Linked DNA regions of Homo sapiens. The protein of the gene in region 3 interacts with the protein of the main gene of each other region in a pairwise test. Each region holds a gene or a part of one and is shown on either strand. Other genes may lie near its edges.

Region 1 (7,030 bases), on a different chromosome or scaffold from region 3:
CAAAGGCGTGTTCCAGCCTTAGAAGCTGGGACGGGGAGAAGGCGGTTCGGATCCGCTTGGGCTTTCGGGCCAGCGCGTTGTGCAAAAGGAAACTCTCGGGGCTAGTGTCGTTCCCTGCGGGGAGCACAGCAGAAATCCCATTAGGGGGGGCTGCTCTGACCGGAGCCGCGCACTTCTCCCGAGCCGGGCTGGCCCGGCACCGTGCTCAGGGCCTTCGCATAGCCGCGCCGCTCGACCTGCGGGGGCCGGTGGTCCTCCCAAGGGCTCACGAAGGGAACGCCTGCTCAGCTGCCCGGCCCGGAACGCCGGGTCTCCACCGGTGCGGCACCCAACCAGCCGCTGTCGCAGAGGAGCCAGTCCCCAGGCTCCTGACCTCGGCCGGCTCCGCAGCCGCCCTGGCGCCGCGGGCCTCGCCACCTCCTCGCCGGGCGCTGGAGGCAGGGGAGGGAGCCGCAGAGCCTGGCCAGGGGATTGGCGCCCACAACCCGAAGAAACTACTTTCTCTTCTTTCTAACCTCTCGGGGAACTTTGACCCACGGTGGAAAGGCGGCGGGCTGCTCTCCAGAGTTTTCATGGAGATTTATTTTTAAATTATTTGTTTTATTGCCCCTCCGGAAAAGTATAGAGGCGGGGCGAGTCGTTGAAGCCCGATCGGGACAGAAATCTGGCCGGCGGGTGTGCTTGGCTACAGCCGCTGCTGCCTCTCGCGAACTGGGCTCCGGGGCTCCCGGCTCCCGAGAACTAGAAGAGAAACGCGAGCGAAGGGATCGAAACCCGGGGGGTTACCGACTTGCAGACACCGCCAGGACAGTCTGTAACGCAGGAAGATCCCAGCGGCTCCGGGTCTGGTGAGGGGACCATAAGCATGACTGATAGCGAATGAGGAAGGGCAGCCCTAAACTTTTCAAGCAAAGCCTCAGAGTTTTGGGTTCACTCATTAGCATAGGAAATCGATTCACCGAAAACCCAAACAAAGAAAAACAAGCCGACAGTCCAGGCAGGATGCAGGCAAATCCAGTTCGGGATTAAGGGTAAAAGGCTTTTTGGGTTTTTTTTCCTTTGGTTTGATTTTTTAAAATATGGGGAGGGGGGTGACATCTACCCGATTCTAGGCTCCGGCAGGAACGCAATGGGTTAATGAATGGACAAGCCGCGGAGTATTGATCGGCTGCCGCCGGAGGTAGGTCTTTTACTGACTCCAATCCGTAAACTAATTACTCCTTTTTCTGAAGTTTTAACTCTCCTCCTCCCACCCCGTACCCAGAGAAAAACAAACAAATAAAAAATATCGCAAGAAATGAAAACACACGAACAGATATTTCCCTCTAAGACAGTTTCCTGACCAGGTTCTTTTTTTTTTTTTTTAAAGAAAGAAAGAAAAACAAAAACCAGACCGAACCTGCCTTCCCGCTGTGGCTGCTCGGCGCCCCAATTAAGCAGGTCGCGGCGAGAGCGCCAAGCCCTGGAGCTTTCCTCCCGCACGGGTTCCCGCCCCTCCCCAGGCCTCCGAAAAGCAGGAAAGAAAAAACAAATCCCATACTTTTCTCCCGGGGCGCGAGGATCCTCTCGCCTCCAGAAGAGGGTGGAAGACTAAGAAGCCGCGGGTCTGGACTGAAGGGGCGCAAAGTGGGTGGTGAACAGGGTCGAACGCAGTCGAAAGCAAGCCTGGCGGCCGAGTCCTGTCCGCGCCCCTCGGAGCCAGGACGGTTGGGGGCATTGCCGAGGGTACCAGGAGCCTGGGGATCCCGCGGGCTCTGGGCTCCGCGGCGCCGGGCACGCACAGCCCAGCCTGCTCTGATTCGAGCGCACTGGGGGACAACTTCTCCGTTCGCACCCCTTCCCAAAGGGTCAAGCGGCCCGCAGGCCATCACTCCAAACCAGTCGTAGCTTCGGAGACTGGGGATCGACACCACGCCCGGCCCCGCGCCGCCTAGTTTCCCAACAGGGCGCGCTGGCCCGCGAGCCGGAGGAACCTCCGCCCAGGCCTTGCCAAGCGCCCACCCGGAGCAGGCCGGGGGCAGTGAAGGATGCGGCGGGAGCGGCGCGCTGCAGTTCCGCGACGTGGCACGTACCTTGGAAGCGATGACCCAGATATCGGTAGCGGTGGATGAGCCAGGGGTAGAAGGTGGACGGATCCCGCTGCTGCGAGGCGAATAGGGGGTGTGGCGAGTGCGAGGAGGGTAGGGGGTGGGCGGCCAGGGCGTGCGGCGGCGGCACCGGGTGCACTGGCACGGCGGGGTTGGGCGGGTGCGAGACCGCCTCGGCGAACACCAAGTCCGGGTTGGAGTAGACGCCCCTACCGGCGGCGGCGGCGGCGGCCGAGTGGAAGCCGTTGAGGAACGGATTTATGGGGCTGGAGTTAGCGTAGCTGAGTGCCGCGGGACGGATGGGGTCCTCGGAGCGCGAGGCGGGCAGGGGACTGTCCTTGGCCACCAGCGACTCGATGGTGAAGCAGCGCTTGGGCGCCGGCTGGAACATGCTGCGCCGAGGAGCGGGCGCCCTGGGCTCCCAGCTCCTGGCGACCGCCGCACGCTGCCTCCGCCGCCCGCTGCCCGCGGCGAGGACGGACGAGAATTGGGGACTCGTTTGTTTGGGGTGGGGGTGGGGGTGGGGGGAAGGAAAGGAAGAAAGAAAGGAAAGGAAAGGAAAAAGGAAAGGAGGGGGGAGGGAGAGGGAGAGGCAAAGCCGAGGATCCCGAGAATCTTGCACCAAACGCGCCCAACCTGAAGAGAGGGGGGAAAATCCTTCCAGAAGAATTTGCAGGCGTGGATTGGGGTAATTTTTTTTCTTTTTTTTTCTTTTTTTTTCTTTTTTTTTTTTTTTTTTTTTTTTGGCGAGATGGCGTGGGGGGATCGGAGTTAGAGGCAGGGAGGAGAAGGGGGGAAAGTTCTCGGGGGAGGCAAAAAAAAAAAAAAGTTTTTTCTCCTCTGCAAAAGGCGGGCAGGGCGCCCTAAGTCCAAGGACAATCCATGGAAGTGTTCGCTTCTTCACAAGTTGTGCAAACGATTTGTTAGTTCATGAGCCTAATTAGTGCGGGGATCACATAAACAGCTTCCTCCGAAGCCTGGTAAATGGCTTGATGATTGGTCGCTATTACTCGCCCTGAGGTGGAAGGGGGGAGACTCTTTAAAGTGCGTCAGAGGGAGGTGAGCGCCTGGGAACCCGGAGGCCTGGATCCGGGCCGAGAGTGGAACGGAGTCGGCGCCGCCGCCTCGGCTGAGCCTTCTGCCGCCCACCGGGCGGCCGGGCTTCTCCGCGCCTTCGCCCCTCGCTCCCAGCTCACTCGCTCCTGCGGCGCCCGCTGCGGCTTCTCCTCCTCCTTCGCCTCCTCCTCTTCCTCCAGTTTCTTCTTCTCCTCCTCCTCCTCTTCTTCCTCCTCCTCCTCTTCTTCCTCCTCCTCTTTCCCCACCTACTCCCCCTCAGCCACCGCCTCCTCCTCCACCAGCACCACTCCCTCCGGGGCACCCCGGTCCCTGCAGAGTCCCTGGCCGGCGCCGCCTCCGCTGCGGCCCCCTGAATCCCGAGCCTGCCTCGCCCAAGCTGGTAGGACAGAAGGACAGACAGATTCCTCTAGCCTAGCGCTCCGCCGCTGCTGCCTTACGCGGCCCCGCGTCGGGAGAACTGGGATCGCCCCAAGAGCACCGCGAGGGTAAGCGGGCAGGGGCTGGTTCCCGGGCTAAAGGCGCCGTTCGGTTATACCAATCCCCACACTTAGCAAAACTCCCAGCGGTTTCCTAGGCCAGGAGGGATCCTGGAGTGAGGGGTACGGGGTCCTCCCACCCCATCAACCACGCTTAGCCTCGAGGTCCCAGGGTCGGTGCGTTCGCGATTCTTGACCCGGCTCGTTCGTTTGCGAGTTGAGACCGGGAGCTGCCGACCCCGCCGGAGCAGTGGGCTTCCAACTCTCTCCCTCTCTCGCCCCACGGTCTCTAGCGTTTTCTGTCTGGGAGGGTGCTCACCTCCTTCCCCAAAACAATTCCTTCTGGAATATCTGGGACCGGCAGTCCAAGGTCAGGGGAGAGCCCGATATGGTGCTACTGTACTATTAAGGTTCCGTCGTAATTATTTTTGTCAGTGTGGTCAATGTTATTATTATTATAGATGATATTATTTTATTATTATTATTTCTATTATTATTATTATGCCATCTGTTGTCCCGGGGTTGGTGGGGGGGTGGTGGTTGCTGTGCAAACCCAGTGCAACTAACGACTACGGATCGCATCTCCGGTCCCGGGCCGTGTCCGCATTTTCGAGCTCGCCTTCGGTTTTGGGATGATTTTAGGACCGAGTTCCCTCGTCCCCATTGGCTCGCGCGGCGGCATAATTATGATCACATCCCCAGGCTGCTGGCGCTGCTCTCTGTTTATTGGTGGTTAAAGATCTATTATCTATTCATCAGCCGCCTCTTTTTTCCTTTTTTTCCTTTTGCCAATTACATTCTTCTAAAGTGAAGTACCAGCAGGTATTTTGCACGTTTACAATTAATGATAAAAAAAAATTCTAGCGTCGTTTAAAACTATTACTCCCAGGCCCCTGTCATTTCTCCTAAGAACGCAGAATTGCCTGTGTTTGGTGACTAGGTTGCCGTGAAACCTGGGAAGCCGATGGCAATGGGAGGAGAAGAGTGAAGTCCACCGTGAGCCAGGCTGCACTGCCACCAGATGCATAGTTGAGGGGACAGGTCTCAGGACGAGCTACCTGCTTCCTCCCTTGGTTTCATCTGGTGTATATTTATGTTTGTGTCAATTACTCCTTTATTCCAGATATAATGTTGTGTTGGGGCAAGTGTCCAAAAACCTCTTTTGGGAAACCAGGCAAGAGAGGAGTTGGGAGCAGTGTTTTCCGGGGTTGTCAGGGCACCAGACAGATTCGTGAGGAACTGGCAGAGATCATCTTTGTTGCCCCCACCCCACACCTTCCCAGGGAACACACATACACATCTTCACAGATGAGACAGGTGTGCGCCTCAGCTTTGCCCTCACAGTGGGAGACACCTGCCTTTCCCTTAGGCTTCGAAGTTCTGGGCTGGGGTCCTAGCCCAGTATTGTCCCTCTGTCAGTTCCAGGTGGCTTTGCTTTCTCCTCCTCCCCTTTTTCCAGGCCCAAAGATTCTGGGCTTTGGATCCAGCCCTTGGGGTAGGGGTGCACTTAAAGATGCACCTCCCTTGGGCCTGGACCACTGTCCCCCAAAATATTGTCTACAGTTTGGAAATCCCTCTCTCAATTAGGCTGTGAGGTTACAGGCCTCTCCTCTAACCCCAGCTAGGCCAGCAGGGAGCCTGAAGACATGGCAGAGGGGGGAGGTCTTTTGGCTGTGCCCAGCCAGTAAGCTTAGGGTGGAGCTAGAGGTCCGCCCTCAGGTTTTTGAGGCTGGAAACAAACACTCAGCTTAGGCAGACTGTGCATCCTGAATCCTGGCAAGCAGGAGAGTGCACCTTTCATGCAAACTTCAGAAGGAGGACTGGAGGGCCAGATTCTGGCAGTGCCCTCAGGCCAGACCCTCCAAACTCAGCCTGAGACTCAGAGGTTGCAAACTGGAGCCACTGAAACTCCACCCTTAGTGATCTTGGATGGGGGCATAAAAGTCATTGACCTTTAGGGCAACAGGTATCCAGTCTGTCTGGGAGATTGGGTGAGACCCAGATGGTTTGTGATGTATAAGGGTGATGGGTGCCTTCCCTCTTTTAAAACTTGCAGCCCTGGGCGCTAAGGTGCAATCATTATTCCCTTAACCAGGACAGTGTTGGGCTGGAGATGGGACCCCTCAGCCTTCTGCCCCAGGCAGGGACATCTGGCTGCAGTAGAGGGGTAGAGTGCTCCACAGTCCCACTTCAGTCAGTCGGCATCCTCTGCAGGCTACCTGCCTTTTATAAACTGCCCTTCTGTGGCCAGGTTTGCCCCAGGGGCTCTAGCTAGCCAACACGTAGGCAGGGGTAAAGGGGCAGCAGGATCTGAGATCTGGTGTCCCCCTTCCTGAAGGAACCAGGATATGCTAGTTCCTCTGCTCCAAGTGCTGCTAGACCCGAGCTGCACTCCAGCCCCTTGAAGGAGAAGCAGGTTTCCAGTGAGTCGGGCAGTTCAGAACCCCAGAAGCTGGGTAATCTATGCTAATTCATGCATGGGTAATCTATGCTAATTCCCGGGGCCAGAAGGGCCCGGGAAGGTTCGCGGGGTCTGGCCCCGATGTGCAGGGAAATTAACTAGGATAGTAACTCATTAACCAGACTGGCCAGTGGAGTCGTGCCAGGGCACTGGGCACTGTGGTCTGGACTGGACCCTAAGCTCCTAGATGGCGCAGCTGCCCTGCCACTCAACTTTACTTGTGGATTTAGGCCTTGCAGAATACAGCCACCTTTGTTCCTTAGCTGCCCAAGGAGTGGGTGTTTGGTTAAGTAGCCCTGCGTGGAGTGGGAGATGTGGGGATTTCTGAGGCTCCAGCTTAGAGCAAGGGGCTTCCTCCCTCTGCCCCATGTGTGCCCCAAGCCACTGCTGCCTCTTGGGCTCTGTAGACTGAGGAATCTACCTTTCCAGGTAGCTGGACTAGCAGACACATTCAAACGTTCTAATTCCGAATCTGTCACTGAATGACCTTGGGCAACACAGAAACCTCCCCACCTCATTTTGTCATATGTAAAAATACAGCCAATGCTGTCTGGGAGGCAGTGGGGAGTAGCAGTGGGCTTGTTTTGGAGAAAGATAGAACTATCCTACTTCCTGATTGTGGTGGTATTTACATGACTCTATGTGTTTTTCAAAACTCACAGAACCATATACTACAAAGGGTGAGTTTTACTATATGTAATTATACTTTAATACACCTGCCCCCATCCCCCAAGATGAGAGACTTGCATTTACAGCTTAACTGTGTGACCTTGGGCAAGTTACCTAACTTCTCTGTGCCTCGGTTTTCTCTTCTCTGAAATGGGAATAAATAATATAGTACCTTTGCTCTGGGTTTGTTCAATGAGATAAACAAAGTAAAGTGCTTAGACAGTGTCTGGCACATAATGAACTACAATAAAAGTTTGCTC
Region 2 (7,997 bases), on a different chromosome or scaffold from region 3:
TCGCTTGAACCCAGGAGGTGGGGAGGATGCAATGAGATGAGACTGCACCATTGCACTCCAACCAACCTGGGCAACAAGAGCGAAACTCCATCTCAAAAAAAAAAAAAAAAAAAAAGACACAGTCCATGTGACACCAAGGTTAAGATGCCAGGTTTTGCCACTCACTGGAGTAACCCACCCTCAGTTTCTTTTAGTATAAAATGGGGGTCGTAATAGTACTGGCACAGGCAGGGTTCTGAGCAGATTCAGAGATAACAGAGAAGGTCTAGCCCAGCGCCAAGCTCAAAGGAAGCACTGAAAAATGTGAGTTGGGGCTGCTGTTGTTTTTGCTGTTGCTGCCACATAGGAAGCACTCGTAAATGTTAGTTTCCTTTCCTTTCCTCTTCCTTCTGGAAAAAGGAGTGCACCTGAAGGACATAATCGAAGGCTACTACTCTATTCAGTAAATGACCTCAGGTGATCCGCCCCCCTCGACCTCCCAAAGTGCTGGGATTACAGGCATGAGCCACTGCACCCAGCCTGGACCAAATTTTTTAGGACAAATCCAAGAAGTTCCACTTTGAAGATGTCTGGTTCTGGCCTCAACCCTACTTCTGAAGTCAGTCAGCAAGGGAATCTATGCTGCCTGGAGGCAGCCTCCAATGCCTTCACTGCAGAGTTTGAGAATCATGCCCTGCCCCTTCCTTGGAAGGAGCCCTCCTCAAGGATCAGGCCCAGAGTTTCTTCACCCCCAGCATCCAGCCTCCCAAATCTGTCCCCACCCTGCCCCAGCCCCTGCCCTGTCTGGGCAGCCTCACGGGTTGTATGGCCAAGGCTCCCTTCATTAGTTCCCATGTGCTACCAGAGAGATCTTAAAACATAAAGCAGGCCGGGAGCGGTGGCTCATGCCTATAATCCCAGCACTTCTCACCCACAGAAAAAAATTCAAAATTCTGGCCAGGCACGGTGGCTTACACCTATAATCCCAACACTTTGGGAGGCCGAGGAGGGTGGATCACCTAAGGTCAGGAGTTCAAGACCAGCCTGACCAACGTGGCAAAACCCCATCTCTACTAAAAATACAAAAATTAGCCGGGCTTGGTGGCAGGCACCTGTAATCCCAGCTACTTGGGAGGCCGAGGCAGAAGAATTGCTTGAACCCAGGAGGCGGAGGTTGCAGTGAGCAGAGATTGCGCCATTGCACTCCAGCCTGGGTGACAGAGCAAGACTCCATCTCAAAAAAAAATTCATAATTCCTTGATATAGGTGACCTGGTCCCTGCTTATGTCTCCTGACCTCATCTCCCATCTTGCCGCCTCCCACACTTGAGCCACCTCAACTTCTAGCAATGCCTCAAATGCATGTGTATCCCCCCTGCCTCAACCTCAATCCCCCCACTCCCAGAACGGTCTCCCCACTCCTACCTGCACCCTTCCCTTGGCCAGCTAACTCTTTTTTTTCCCCTTCAGTTTGTTTTTCACTTATATTTTAGCTTTTTATTTGAAAATTATTATAGATTCACAGGAAATTAGGAAAATAGTACAGAAAGATCCTTTGTATCCTTCACCCAGCTCCCCTCAATACTTTTTTTGTTTTGTTTTTTGAGATGGAGTCTCGCTCTGTCGCCCAGGCTGGAGAGCAATGGCGCAATCTCGGCTCACTGCAACCTCCGCCTCCCAGGTTCAAGCAATTCTCCTGCCTCAGCCTCCCAAAGTGCTAGGATTACCGGCGTGAGCCACCCCACCTGGCCCATCTCTATAATTTTCTTACTTCAAAAAAGTTACACAAATGGAATTATACAGTATGCAACCTTTTTCATAAAACAGCTTTGAGATATAATTCACATATTTCACCTTCTTACAGTGTAATTTTCTTTTTAGTATATTCACAGAGCTGTACTACCATCACAATTTTAGAACATTTTCGTCAGCCTAAACAAACCCTGTACCCTTTGGCAGTCACCCCCAATTTACCCTCCAGCCCCCACCCCTTTTCCAAGGCAGCCTTAGGCAACCACAAATCTACTTTCTGTTCTATAGACTTGCCCACACTGCACATTTCATATAAATGGAATATATACTAAAATATACTAAAAATTGAAATTTACACTTTAAAGGAGTGAAGTATGTAATACGTGAATTATATCTCAATAAAGCTGTCATGGGAAAAAAAAACAAAACTCCTAAACCAAATCCAACATTTTCGTCAAACTCACTTCCTCCCACTTCCCCCTTCTTAATGGGACCCCATCACCCAACCACATTTTTTCTCTCCTTCCTTCCCTCTTACGCCATCTTGCCTCTTACATCAAACCCTGCAGGCTAAACTCTCTCACATATAGCTGCCCCTTTCCATGGCCACCGTCGGCCGTCCTAGTGGGACTCTCACTGCCCATTCTGGGGGCTGTCACATGGCTCCCAACTGACTTCCCTACTTCCAGTGTCACTCCAGTCCAGTCCGACACATTGTCTCCAGGTTAATCTTCTCCCAGATTACAAGGGCCCCTGAAGGCAAAGGCTGCATTTCCCTGTCCGTTTGGGGGGACTCCTGAGGGCAGGGGCATATCTCTTTCTCCTTCAGATTAGGGAGCCCTGAGGACAGTCGCCTAACTCCTTCACTTTGGGGCTTCCAAGGGCAGGACTGTGACTACCCCTCAGGCCAAAAGGTCCTTAAGGCAGAGTTGTCACCCACTTCAGACCTGGCTCTGAGAGCAAATCTCTGCACCATGCCTCTACATCTTTGGAACCAAACTCAGTGCTGTGCTTGACTCACAACATTCTTCTTCACACCTCCTCGGCCTCTCCGTCATCCCCAGAGCCCAGAGCTCTGGCGGGGACACGGTCCGGCCCGCTGCCAGGACTCCCTAATGCCCCCAGGACGCGCTCAGGGAGCGACGTCTATCACGATCTAACCCAGCCCTGGAGGCCGTGTCGCCTCCTTCCGCCTCCACGCGTAGTCATGGTAAGCAGGGTCTTGAACCTCTCCTGTGGGAGCCGCGGAGCTCGCAGGCCCTCGGGGCTCGGGCTCCAGCCTGCGTGGGGACTCCAGGGGCAGAAAGGTCTTAAGCCAGACTCACCACGCAGGGCCGCTAGCCGTCCCGCAGCGCCGCCATCTTGTTGTCACGCGGTTTCCTAGGCGACCAGGACCCGTGCACTTCTCATTGGCTAGTTTGAGGGAGGCCTGAGCAACCTGCAGACAGCGAAGGTGGATACAGTCGCCTGTGCTCGGATTCTATTGGCCCACAGAGTCGGTATTCTTCGCGGGCGAATCCCAGAATGCACCGCTCTGAGAGGGCTCCAGGTCCGGGGCGGGGTGGGGGGGGGGGGTGGTTCGTTCCTACCCTCAGGTGCGGGAGGAAGGAGCCTGGGATTAGGTTAATGAAACTGCTGGCAGCCTCACATTCAGGACCTGAATGTGTGATCCCGACAGTGCCGCTATTTTGCTAAATTGATCTTGGGAGGAATTATCCCTCTTAGCTTATTTCCCCATATGATCAGTATTGTAACACGAAGTACTGTAATACTTCACGGAGGCTGCTTTGAGGATGGATTGCAATGATGCAAGTACTTAATAAATGTTTCCTAAATCTGAGTTTCTGTGACAAATCCTTGACCAGATTGGCGCCCGGAAGGGCGGCCCAAATTCTAGTTCCCTTGTGTTAAGAGTTGGGTAAGACAATTTCCCCTCCCAGAGCCTCATCTGTAAAATTGTGTTGGATTAGACTCAGTCACCAAAACAGCTAAAGGCAGTTAAGACCACGAACTTTGGAATTAGGAGTCCTGGCTCCTTACTGTGTGTTCTTGGGCACTTTATACACCTTAGTTTTTATATCTGTAAAACAGTGATAATACCTACCCCCACTGGGTTGCCGTGAGGATTAAATAAGGTAATGCAAAGTACACGATTTTAAAGGGGAAAGCCGAAACAGAAACACCTGTAGAGAGCACTTTTTCAAAAACGTTTCCTGCTGTTAATCATCATCATCATCTCTTCACCCTTTCAGCTGTGATGGTCTGGGAGTTTATGATTTCTGATCTCAGGCACTCACTTCTTTGTGCCCAGGTTCAAAAGCCCTTTCTCTGCACAACCCAAGAGTGTTTTTCTGTTGCTTTTTTTTTTTTTTTTTTTTAATTTTCCGTTTGACTTTCTAGCCTACCACATTCAGGGAAGGGTAGGCTCTGCTCACTGCAACATCCGCCTCCCAGGCTCAAGCTATCCTCCCATCACAGCCACCAGTGTAGCTGGGACTACAGGTGTGCACAACAACGCCCAGCTAGTTTTTGTATTTTCTTGTAGAGACGGGGTCTTGCCATGTTGCCCAGCCTGGTCTCAAACTCCTGAGCTCAAGCCATCCGCCCATCTCTGCCTCCCAAAGTGGACAGCATTCTTTATATGCAAATTGGAAGCTAAAGAGAGCTACTACTACTGAGTGCCAAGTACCAGATGGTAACATGAAATTTACAGATGAGGGCCGGGCGTGGTGGTTCACGCCTGTAATCCCAGCATTTTGGGAGGCTGAGGCAGGCGGATCATCTGAAGTCGGGAGTTCGAGACCAGCCTGACCAACATGGAGAAACCCCGTCTCTACTAAAAATACAAAATCAGCCGGGCATGATGGCGCATGCCTGTAATCCCAGCTACTCAGGAAGGCTGAGGCAGGAGAATCGCTTGAACCTGGGAGGCGGAGGTTGCGGTGAGCTGAGATCGCACCATTGCACTCCAGCCTGGGCAACAAGAGTGAAACTCTGTCAAAAAAAAAAAAAAGAAAAGAAAAGAAAAAAGAAAAAAACAGATGAGAAAACAAGCTCAGGGTAGTACAGCGGCTTGCATAAGATTATAAAGGCAGGAAGCAGAAGTGGATTCAAACCCAGAACGGTCAGCCTCAAGAGTCCACGCTCTTCCTAGAAACTTTCACTCTGGTAAACAAGGCAGGCATAGATAAGCCAAGGAAGAAGGTGGTACAGACCTACTGCCAAGGGAGGAGTCTGGGCGGAAAGTGTGACTGGAGAGTGGACATAGGAAGAGCTCTCTTGTTGCTGAGCTGCTCCCAGAAAGTTTTCTGAGGTTTTAGGTATATGAAGATGAGAAAGACTGAGATCATGTCGGGGCCAAGTGTTTTTTGAGGTTGGACCCATGGTCAGGGTGAGTAGCAACTTCATACTGTCACCTTGCTCATGGAGATAAGCAAGCGTGGGAAGCAGGAGCTCTGGTCTCATGAGCCCTGCTGTGGTCTGCCCTCTGATTCCTGCCTCAGCAAGAACCAGATCGTGAGTGGCATTTACCCAGGCACCAGGATTTACCCCATCCCTTCTTCCCACCCAGGGCCTGGCTGTAGATTCCGCAGCAGGCAGACACTCAGTAAACATCTATTTCCTGGGAGGAAAATGGGAGCCCTCTAACCTGGCAGGCCAGTCGTTTGATTTTTTTTTTTTTTTTTTTTTTGAGTCTTGCTCTGTCACCAGGCTGGAGTGCAGTGGCACGATCGTGGCTCGCCACAACCTCCACCTCCCAGATTCAAGCGATTCTCCAGCCTCAGCCTCCCAAGTAGCTGGGACTACAGGCACACGCCACCATGCCCAGCTAATTTTTTTGTATTTTTAGTAGAGACGGGGTTTCACGATGTTGGCCAGTGTGGTCTCCGTCTCCTGACCTTGTGATCCGCCCACCTCAGCCTCCCAAAGTGCTGGGATTACAGGCGTGAGCCACTGCGCCCTGTCCCGAGTCAATTGATTTTTTTTTTTTTTGAGACAGAGTCTCACTCTGTCGCCAGGCTGGAGTGCAGTGGTGTGATCTCAGCTCACTGCAATCTCCAACTCTCTGGTTCGAGCAATTCTCCTGCCTCAGCCTCTGAGTAGCTGGGATTACAGGCAAGTGCCACCACCCCCAGCTAATTTTTGTATTTTTAGTAGAGATGGGGTTTCACCATGCTGGCCAGGATGGTCTCTATCTCCTGACCTCATGATCTACCCGCCTCAGCCTCCCAAAGTGCTGGGATTACAGGTGTGAGCCACCGTGCCCTTCTGGTTTGATTTTTTTTAAAAAAATAACATTTATTGGGAAAGTCAGAGCCTTATTATAAAAATATACAATTTCACTGGAGAAACTTGGAAAATAATAAGAGCCATCATTTGTTGGGGATACATTGTACTGTGGACCAGCATAACTTAACAACTCTATGAGGCTGGGCTCTGTCGTTTAATAGCTGGCTGTTCCTGCTCAAGATACTTCACTTGTCAGAGTCTCAGTGTCTACAAATGTAAAGTAGAGATACTAATAGAATCTACCTCCTAGGATTATTGTACAAATTAAATTTTCCATAATGAGGCACCGGCCCCAGCATGAGTGGGGACAACAGCTGAAAAAAATATATACACTATTTTAAAAATTCCTATAATGTTGTTGCATTATTGCTCCTGAAAAGGTGTTCTTCTTTTCTTTCTTTGCTCATTTATTTATTTTTAGAGACAGACTCTGTCTATGTTGCCCAGGTTGGATTTGAACTCCTGAGCTCAAGGGATCCTCCAGTCTCGGCCTCTCAGCCTACCAAGTAGCAGAGACTATACCCTCTTGCCACTGTGCCCGGCCCAAAAAGGAGGAGTTTTTGGCTGGGCACAGTGGTTCACACCTGTAATCCCAACATTTTGGGAGGCCGAGGTGGGTGAATCACCTGAGATCAGGAGTTCGAGACCAGCCTGGCCAACATGACGAAACCCTGTCTCTACTAAAAAATACAAAAACTAGGCCAGGAGCAGTGGCTCATGCCTGTAATCCCAGCACTTTGGGAGGCTGAGGTGGGTGGATCACCTAAGGTCAGGAGTTTGAGACCAGCCTGGCCAACATGGTGAAACCCCATCTCTACTAAAAATACAAAAATCAGCCAGGTGTGGTGGCATGCGCCTATAATCCCAGCTACTTTGGAGGCTAAAGCAGGAGAATCACTTGAACCCAGCAGTCGGAGGTTACAGTGAGCCAAGGTCGCATCACTGCACTCCAGCCTGGGCAACAAGAGCAAGACTCCATCTCAAAAAAAAAAAGAAAGAAAGAAAAGAAAGAAATACAAAAATTAGCAGGGCATGGTGGCGGTCGCCTGTAATCCCAGCTACTCGGGAGGCTAAGGCAGGAGAATTGCTTGAACCTGGGAGGCTGAGGTTGCAGTGAGCCAAGATTGCGCCACTGCACTCCAGCCTGGGCGACAGTGCCAGACTCTGTCTTAAAAAAAAAAAAAAAAAAAAAGGTGTTTTTTCAAAAACAAAATTATAAAAGAAACCAAGAGTCTAAGCTCATCTGATTTTTTTTTTTTAACCTATATTTCTCTTCCCACATCTTAGAAGGTCTGGAAATCTCTGAGGTCTCCAGGCTCACAAGACTTGAGTGTTGTGAGGGCCTTGGAGACCCATCCGACCACTTCCAAGCTGGAAGGATTCCCTCTGGACTTCTGAGATGGGGTCGCCCAGCCTCATCTTGATCGCATCCAGTGGTGGATATTCAGTCTGATGATGGTGCAAAGGCCCTGGCCTGGGAGGAGGGAGGTCTTGAACAAGGCTCTTTCTGGACCTGTTTCCCACCTGCAGGGTGAGGAAGTAGACCCCAGCTCTGGGGCTAGATGGTTCTGGAAGTCTCTATTCTTTTTTTTTTTTTTTTTGAGACAGAATCTCACTCTGTTTTCCAGGCTGGAGTGCAGTGACGTGATCTCAGCTCACTGCAAACTCCAGCTCCCAGGTTCAAGCGATTCTCTGCCTCAGCCTCCCGAGTAGCTGCGATTACAGGTGCCCACCACCATGCCCAGCTAATGTTTTTGTATTTTTTAGTAAAGACAGGGTTTCACCATGTTGGCCAGGCTGGTCTTGAACTCCTGACCTCATGATCCACCCGCCTCAGCCTCCCAAAGTGCTGGGATTACAGGCATGAGCCACCATGCCCGGTGGAAGTCTCTATTCTTTTTTTGAGATGGAGTCTCACACTCGTTGCCAAGGTTGGAGTGCAGTGGCGCGATCTTGGCTCACTGCAGACTCTGCCTC
Region 3 (7,104 bases):
TTTAAATAGTTGGATTTTGTGTGTAGGGGTGCAGGATCTTGCTCTGTTGCTGGGGCTGGAGTGCAGTGGCGCGATCATAGCTCACTGCAGCCTCAAACTCCTGGGCTCAAGAGATGCTTCCATCTCAGCCTCTGGTGTAGCAAGCACTACAGGAGCAGGCCACCACGCCCGGATAATTTTTAAACTTTTTGTAGAGATGGAATCTCGCGATGGTTACCCAGGCTGGTCTCAAACTCCTGGACTCAAGTGGTCCTCCCACCTTGGCCTCTCAATATGTTGGGTTACAGGCGTGAGCCACCGAGCCTCGCCTGGATTTTTTTTTGAAGCAACTGATTAGAATTGGATTGTACTTGAGATACCCCTGCTGAAGGCTGCAAAAATCATGTTTTTTCTTACTTCAGCTAGTTTGTGAGCTTCCATAATGGTTTTCTGCTGTGCATAATCATAAACACTTAAAAAGAGCCATGGGCTTTTCCTGCTTATCCCATCATGCATAGGTATCTGGATGATTTTTGTCTATGGACATTACATAAAATATCATTTTCAGTTTGATATTATTGTGTGGTTTTCTCTTTGTATGAGTTGAGTTACATGAAGATGTGGCCCACAAATATTAAATTTGTTGAGAAGCTTGAAAGGGAAAATTAAGGGAAACATTTTACCTCTTAACGGATAATTTGGCAAAAATTTGAACGTTAGGGCAAACGGTACTCTGATGTTATTCTATCGGCATTTGAATTGTGGCTGGGTCAAAATTAGGTTTAATATTAGTCTGTGAAAATGGCAAGGCCATCTTACCTCCAGTAGGTCGTGTTTCTTTGTAGCTTTATCTTCATTCTACATCGTTCATTATTAGAATTAAAAAAATTTTTTTTTGACTTGTAGTTCCTTTTGAGGTAAGAGATTAATTTTGATTTCTTTAGCTTAACTGAAAGTGTATAATTTTACTTGTTTTTACATTGTAGCTCTTGAATTTTTTGAAACCACGCTAATTTCATAAGTGAATCAACTTGGACAATCAGCTAATTTAATGCTTCCTTTTTTATACTTTGGAAACATGCTCTGTACTACACAGCTTATTAATAAGAGTAAATAAGGTTTATATACATATTGACAAATATTTGTTGTACTATATAATTCATATTAATGAACAATTGAATGCCAACCAGACTATGCAAATTAGTGGACTTTTTGCTTAATGAAAGAACCCACTATATCAGAGTTCCTCGATAATCCACGTAAATTTGGCTCTGGGGTTCATATTCCAGATTTCTTCAATTAAAAGAAAAAAATATACTTGCTGAGTGCGGTGGCTCACGCCTGTAATCTCAGCACTTTGGGAGGCCGAGGCGGGTGGGGATCACTTGAGGTCAGGTGTTCGAGACCAGCCTGGCCAAAATGGTGAAACCCTGTCTCTACTAAAAATACAAAAATTAGCCAGGCCTGGTGGCAGGCGCCTGTAATCCCAGCTACTGGGGAGGCCAAGGCAGGAGAATCGCTTGAACCTGGAGGTGGAGGTTGCAGTGAACCGAGATGGTACCACTGTACTTCAGCCTGGGCGACAGAGCAAGACTCCATCAAAAAGAATAAAAAAAAAAACAGAAACAAATTTCACACTTCATTTTATAATCTGAGTTAATGAGCATGATTATTAGACTTAGAGAAATTCAATGTAGACACACAGTTTATACACAGAAGTTGCAGAGGGATAATATGCAAAATGAATTATGTAAGCTTACTCTAGTTTGGACAGAAAACTGTAGGCAAAAAACATTTAAGTAAAATATTGTTTAATTTACATAAAGTTAAGAATATGGGCCGGGTGCGGTGGCTCATGCCTGTAATCCCAGCACTTTGGGAGGCCGAGGTGGGTAGATCACCAGGTCAGTAGTTTGAGACCAGCCTGATCAACATGGTGAAACCCCACCTCTACTAAAAATACAAAACTTAGCTGGGCGTGGTGATGCGTGCTTGTAATCCCAAGGTACTCAGGAGGCTGAGGCAGGAGAAGCTCTTGAACCTGGGAGGCGGAGGTTGTAGTGAGCTGAGATTGTGCCACTGCACTCCAACCTGGGTGACAGAGCGAGACTCCGTCTCAAAAAAAAAAAAAATAAACAAAAGAAGTTTCCTTAATCTATTAGTACCGGTGAGTTGCACCATCTTAGTCATAGAGACTTTTTTGAGAAGTGGAAATGAGCATGGGTTATAGTCTCATCTTAATATCTGAGTGATCTTGAAGACTGAAATTTCTAAGTCAGCTGAAAGTCGGAATAAGATATATTACGGTGATTTCAATTTTTAAATGCAGTATTCAAAGGTGACAGTTTGTCAACTGTAAGGGACTAAAGTTGACATTCCATGAATGTTTTATACTCATGTATATCCATGCATTTACATACTATTTTCCCTCTTTTCTTGGAAATTCACATTGCTGCTTTTTAATTATCAATCCTTAGCCATTAGCAAGAAATGCAAAGCCTGTGATTCACAATCCTAAGATGTTCTTCCCACTCCTATCCCTACCATAAAAATCACTAGTGTTCCTTCAAAAGTCCCTAATCATGTCTCCAGAAAAAGAAAGGGGCTGGGCTTGGTGGCCCACACATGTAATCCGAGGCTTTGGGAGACAAAGGCAGGAGGATCACTTGAGCCCGGAGTTTGAGACCAGCCTGGCCAACATGGCGAGACCCTGTCTCTCCAAAAAATTAAAAAATTAGCTGAATATGGTGGTGCACACCTGTGTCCTAGCCTCAGGAGGCTGAAATGGGAGGATCCCCTGAGCCTGGGAGGTCAGAGCTGCAGTGAGCTGTGATCACACCACTGCATTCCAGCCTGGGTGACAGAAAGAGACCCTATCTCACCAAAAAAAAAAAGAAAAAGAAAATGATTTTGCGTGTGTGTGTGTGTGTCTAAAATACTAATAGTCATTTCTGGGCACTTCTGGAACCTGAGAATGTGGTCAGAAATATAAGGGGTTTTTTTTTTTTTGTTTCCCCAGTTGGAACTTTTGATACATTATTCCATAGAAACAGTAGGAAAATGGGCCGGGCGTGGTGGCTCACGCCTGTAATCCCGACACTTTGGGAGGCTGAGGTGGGCGGATCACCTGAGGTCGGGAGTTCGAGACCAGCCTGACCAGCATGGAGAAACCCTGTCTCTACTTAACAAAATTACAAAATTAGCTGGGTATGGTGGCACATGCCTGTAACCCCAGCTTCTTGGGAGGCTGAGGCAGAAGAATCGTTTGAACCTGGGAGGTGGAGGTTGCGGTGAGCCTATGTCTGCCATCGCACTCCAGCCTGGGCAACAAGACTGAAACTCCTTCTCAAAAAAAAAAAAAAAGAAAAAAGAAAAAACAGGAAAATGAAGTTTAGTCACACTATATTCAGTAAATTTTTGTGGAATCATTACAAATCTAACCAGCATTGGATTTATAGGGATATGGAATTAAGGATATGGATTTATAGTTGTAAGCAACTAACTAAAAAAACCTTATAAACATACCTTGTTTGTAACAGCTATTTTTAATGTAGAAAGATCGTTATTTGTAATTGCTACACATAGCACTTATTCTATGTTAAGTACCACACTGAATGCTTTACATATATTAACTCATTTATTTCTTTTTTTTTTTTTTTTGAGACAGCGTCTCACTGTTGTCCCAGCTAGAGTACAGTGGCGCGATCTCGGCTCACTGCAACCTCCGCCTCCTGGGTTCAAGTGATTCTCCTGCTTCAGCCTCCTGAGTAGCTGGGACTACAGGCACGTGCCACCACGCCCGGCTAATTTTTGTATTTATAGTAGAGATGGGGTTTCACCATATTGGCCAGGCTGGTCTCGAACTCCTGACCTCGTGATCCGCCCACCTCAGCCTCCCAAAGTGCTGGGATTACAGGCGTGAGCCACCGCGCCAGGCTAACTCATTTAATTCTTAACAGTACAGATGAAGTAACATTGTGTGACTAACTTGCTCCAAAATCACACAGCTATTAAGTGGTGGGGTGGAGTTTAAATTAAAGCAGCCAAAGTGCAGAGTGTATATTCTTAACCGTTGCACTCTTTCAAGTAGGCATGTAATGTGCTTTGCTTGGGTGACTTCAGAAGGGGAGATGTGTTTTGATAAGCTTACTATGTGTTTTGCTACAGCTATAAAATAAAACGTGTGGGCATTTATTTTTAGGCCCTGTTATATTACAATGTTAGATAACAAAAATATATAATCTTGAGGACTAAACCAAGCAATTACACCAATCGTGTTTTAGTAACTAATTGAGAACTTTGTGGATTTCTAAAGAAAGTGGATGGACACTTAACCTTCTCCCCCTTTCTAATTTGATTTCTGGCATTTGCTAGTTCGTATGATTTCCCAGTTAAAATATTTTGCTAGTGAAAAAAGTTTTAGTACATTTTTAAAAGTTTGTGAATTTTGGATTTATTCTAGACTTAACTACCTTAGTACTTTTAGTAATTTTGGTGATAAGTCTGGCAAAGGGTAAAACAGTTGTTTTGAAAAAGTTTAAGCTAAAATGTACACATACGTGTTTCTTGGTGTATTTTAAGCTTGTTACTACAAAATGCTATACAGAAATTAGTTGTAATATTTTTTTCTGTGCTCTGCTCATTACTGTCATTGTAATCTCTACTAAAAATACAAAAATTAGCCAAGCGTGGTCACGGGTGCCTGTAGTCCTAGCTACTTGGGAGACTGAAGCAAGAGAATTGCTTCAACCTGGGAGGTGGAGGTTGCAGTGAGCCGAGATGATGACATTGCACTCCATTACTGTCATTGTAATGAGCAGAGCACAGAAAAAAATATTGTAACTAATTTTGATATATATGTCTACATATATATGTCAACATATTAGTATTGCCGTGAAACTTCTTATGGGGCAGTAAGCCTATGTTGGCACAAAATCTGGTCAGAAGTATTAACTAAGGCAAGAAAGTTTGATATTTTAATTGATATGTGAAATGTATATTTTTTCTTATAGTTCTTTTTCTGATGAATAAATGAATACTTTATAGGTGAGGAATTCATATTTCAAGTGATTTTTAACTTTCTACCACGGTCACATAGTTCCTTAAGTGTTACATACAAAGTTTTGGTGCCGCAAAAGGAATAGCACTTGAATATAAAATTTTTTTTTAATTTTTAGCAAGGCAAGTTATTTTTATAGAACTCATAATTAACATAAGTGAGAGAGAACTCAAACCTGAGTGTCAAGCTTTATTACTATCTTGTGTAAAAAGAGGAACAAATTCAACCAAAACTAAAGTCCATCCTTCAGTAAAACTTGTATGTTAGGGTTGATACTGATGCGTAGGTACACAAATAAGTGTAAAATTCTAACTGAAAGAATATGCCAGATGGTTTATGGATGGTGGGATTAGGAGGGTTAAATTTTTTTCATTTGAACTTGTATACTTTGTTACCATGTTGTGGATTGTAAAATCTGTTTTGGATGTTGGTTTATACATCATGGTATTTAGCTTTTCTTTATTTTTTGTTTTTTTTCTTTGACTTAGTTACATACTCATGGTCCAAAATAGCAATTTGGTAAAGCCTATAGCCCCTATCTTAGAGTGTTTTAAAATGCAGGCCAGGCACAGTGGTTCATGCTTGTAATCCCAGCACTTTGGGAGGCTGAGATGGGCGAATCACCTGAGATCAGGAGTTCGAGACCAGCCTGGCCAAAATGGTGAAACCTTATCTTTACTAAAAATACAAAAATTAGCCGAGCGTGTTCATGGGTGCCTGTAGTCCCAGCTAAGGCTGAGGCAAGAGAATTGCTTGAACCTGGGAGGTGGAGGTTGCAGTGAGCCGAGATGGTGCCATTGCATCCAGCCTGGGCAACAAGAGTGAAACTCCGTCTCAAAAAAAAAAAAGAAAAAAGAATGTTTTAACATGTATTACATAAAATGCATAGGTTTACAAAGGAAACCAATTTATACTGAAGTACAACAAGGATTGAATTAGCATGAGTCATATTAAGGACATTATCTGGCACAGGCTAAGTTCTGTCTAATGTGGAAAACCTATCTCCTGCCTATCTTCCCCAACCACCTCATTCCCCTTTCCAAATTGCCCAATTACAATTTTTTGAGGATTCTACTAGAAAAAGTCTGTCCAGGAGAACTTTCTGAGATAATGGAAAGGGTATTTTTTACTGTCCAATACAGTAGCCACTGGCTGTACATGGTAATTGAGCATTTGGATATTGTGGCTTGTGCAACCAAGGAAATAAATTTTAAACTTTATTTAATATTAATAATTAACCACATGTAGGTAATGGCTACCTAATTGTGCAGTATGGCCTCAGAAGCTAGAAATTCTGGCCGGGCATGGTGGCTCACGCCTGTAATCCCAGCACTTGGGGAGGCTGTGGCAGGTGGAGCACTTGAGGTCAGGAGTTGGAGACCAGCCTGGCCAACATGGTGAAACCCCATCTCTACTAAAAATACAAAAATTAGCTGGGTGTGGTGGCACGTGCCTGTAGTCCCAGCTACTCGGGAGGCTGAGACAGGAGAATCACTTGAACCTGGGAGGCGGAGGTTGCAGTGAGCCAAGACTGCACCACTGCACGCCAGCCTGGGTGATAGAGCAAGACTCCATCTCAAAAAAAAAAAAAAAAAAGAAAAAGAATCTAGAAATTCTGGTGTGTGCAAATGTATGTATACATATTGTATTTAGTTCAACTTTATAAGGTATAACTGGATATGTCCAGTTTGGTTAGATACATGATTCTATCCTAGAAAAGCTTGTCGCTCTGTATTTTAAACTTTGAAAGATAGTTATTTACTCTTGTATAGAATTAGAATTTTTCTGTGGGTTAATGTTTTTTTTTGTTTTTTTTTTTTTTGCTAGTCTTTTTGTTTCTGTTTTTGTTTTGAGATGGTGTCTCACTCTGTTGTCAGGCTGGAGTGCAGTGGCACGATCTCGGGTCACTGCAACATCCACCTCCCGGGTTCAGGTGACTCCTGCCTCAGCCTCCTGAGTAGCTGGGACTACAGGTGTGCGCCACCACTGCCAACTAATTTTTGTGTTTTTAGTAGAGACAGCATTTCACCACGTTGGCTAGGATGGTCTTGATCTCTTGACCTCAT

What was found.
Region 1: the proteins of EIF4E (region 3) and EMX2 interact in binary tests that used the Homo sapiens proteins (3 or more experiments, as listed by UniProt).
Region 2: the proteins of EIF4E (region 3) and UBXN11 interact in binary tests that used the Homo sapiens proteins (3 or more experiments, as listed by UniProt).

The regions. Positions count from the first base shown.
Region 1 is NC_000010.11:117,538,716-117,545,745, reverse strand, and holds the start of EMX2 (homeobox protein EMX2), read right to left. Parts: upstream 3,001-7,030; 5' UTR 2,479-3,000; coding exon 2,073-2,478; intron 1,441-2,072; exon of another isoform or gene 1,370-1,440; intron 1,181-1,369; exon of another isoform or gene 678-1,180; intron 115-677; coding exon 1-114. UniProt on the Homo sapiens protein: Transcription factor, which in cooperation with EMX1, acts to generate the boundary between the roof and archipallium in the developing brain. May function in combination with OTX1/2 to specify cell fates in the developing central nervous system.
Region 2 is NC_000001.11:26,303,537-26,311,533, forward strand, and holds the start of UBXN11 (UBX domain-containing protein 11), read right to left. Parts: upstream 3,101-7,997; 5' UTR 3,056-3,100; intron 1-3,055. UniProt on the Homo sapiens protein: May be involved in the reorganization of actin cytoskeleton mediated by RND1, RND2 and RND3. Promotes RHOA activation mediated by GNA12 and GNA13.
Region 3 is NC_000004.12:98,919,089-98,926,192, reverse strand, and holds part of EIF4E (eukaryotic translation initiation factor 4E), read left to right. Parts: intron 1-7,104. UniProt on the Homo sapiens protein: Acts in the cytoplasm to initiate and regulate protein synthesis and is required in the nucleus for export of a subset of mRNAs from the nucleus to the cytoplasm which promotes processes such as RNA capping, processing and splicing.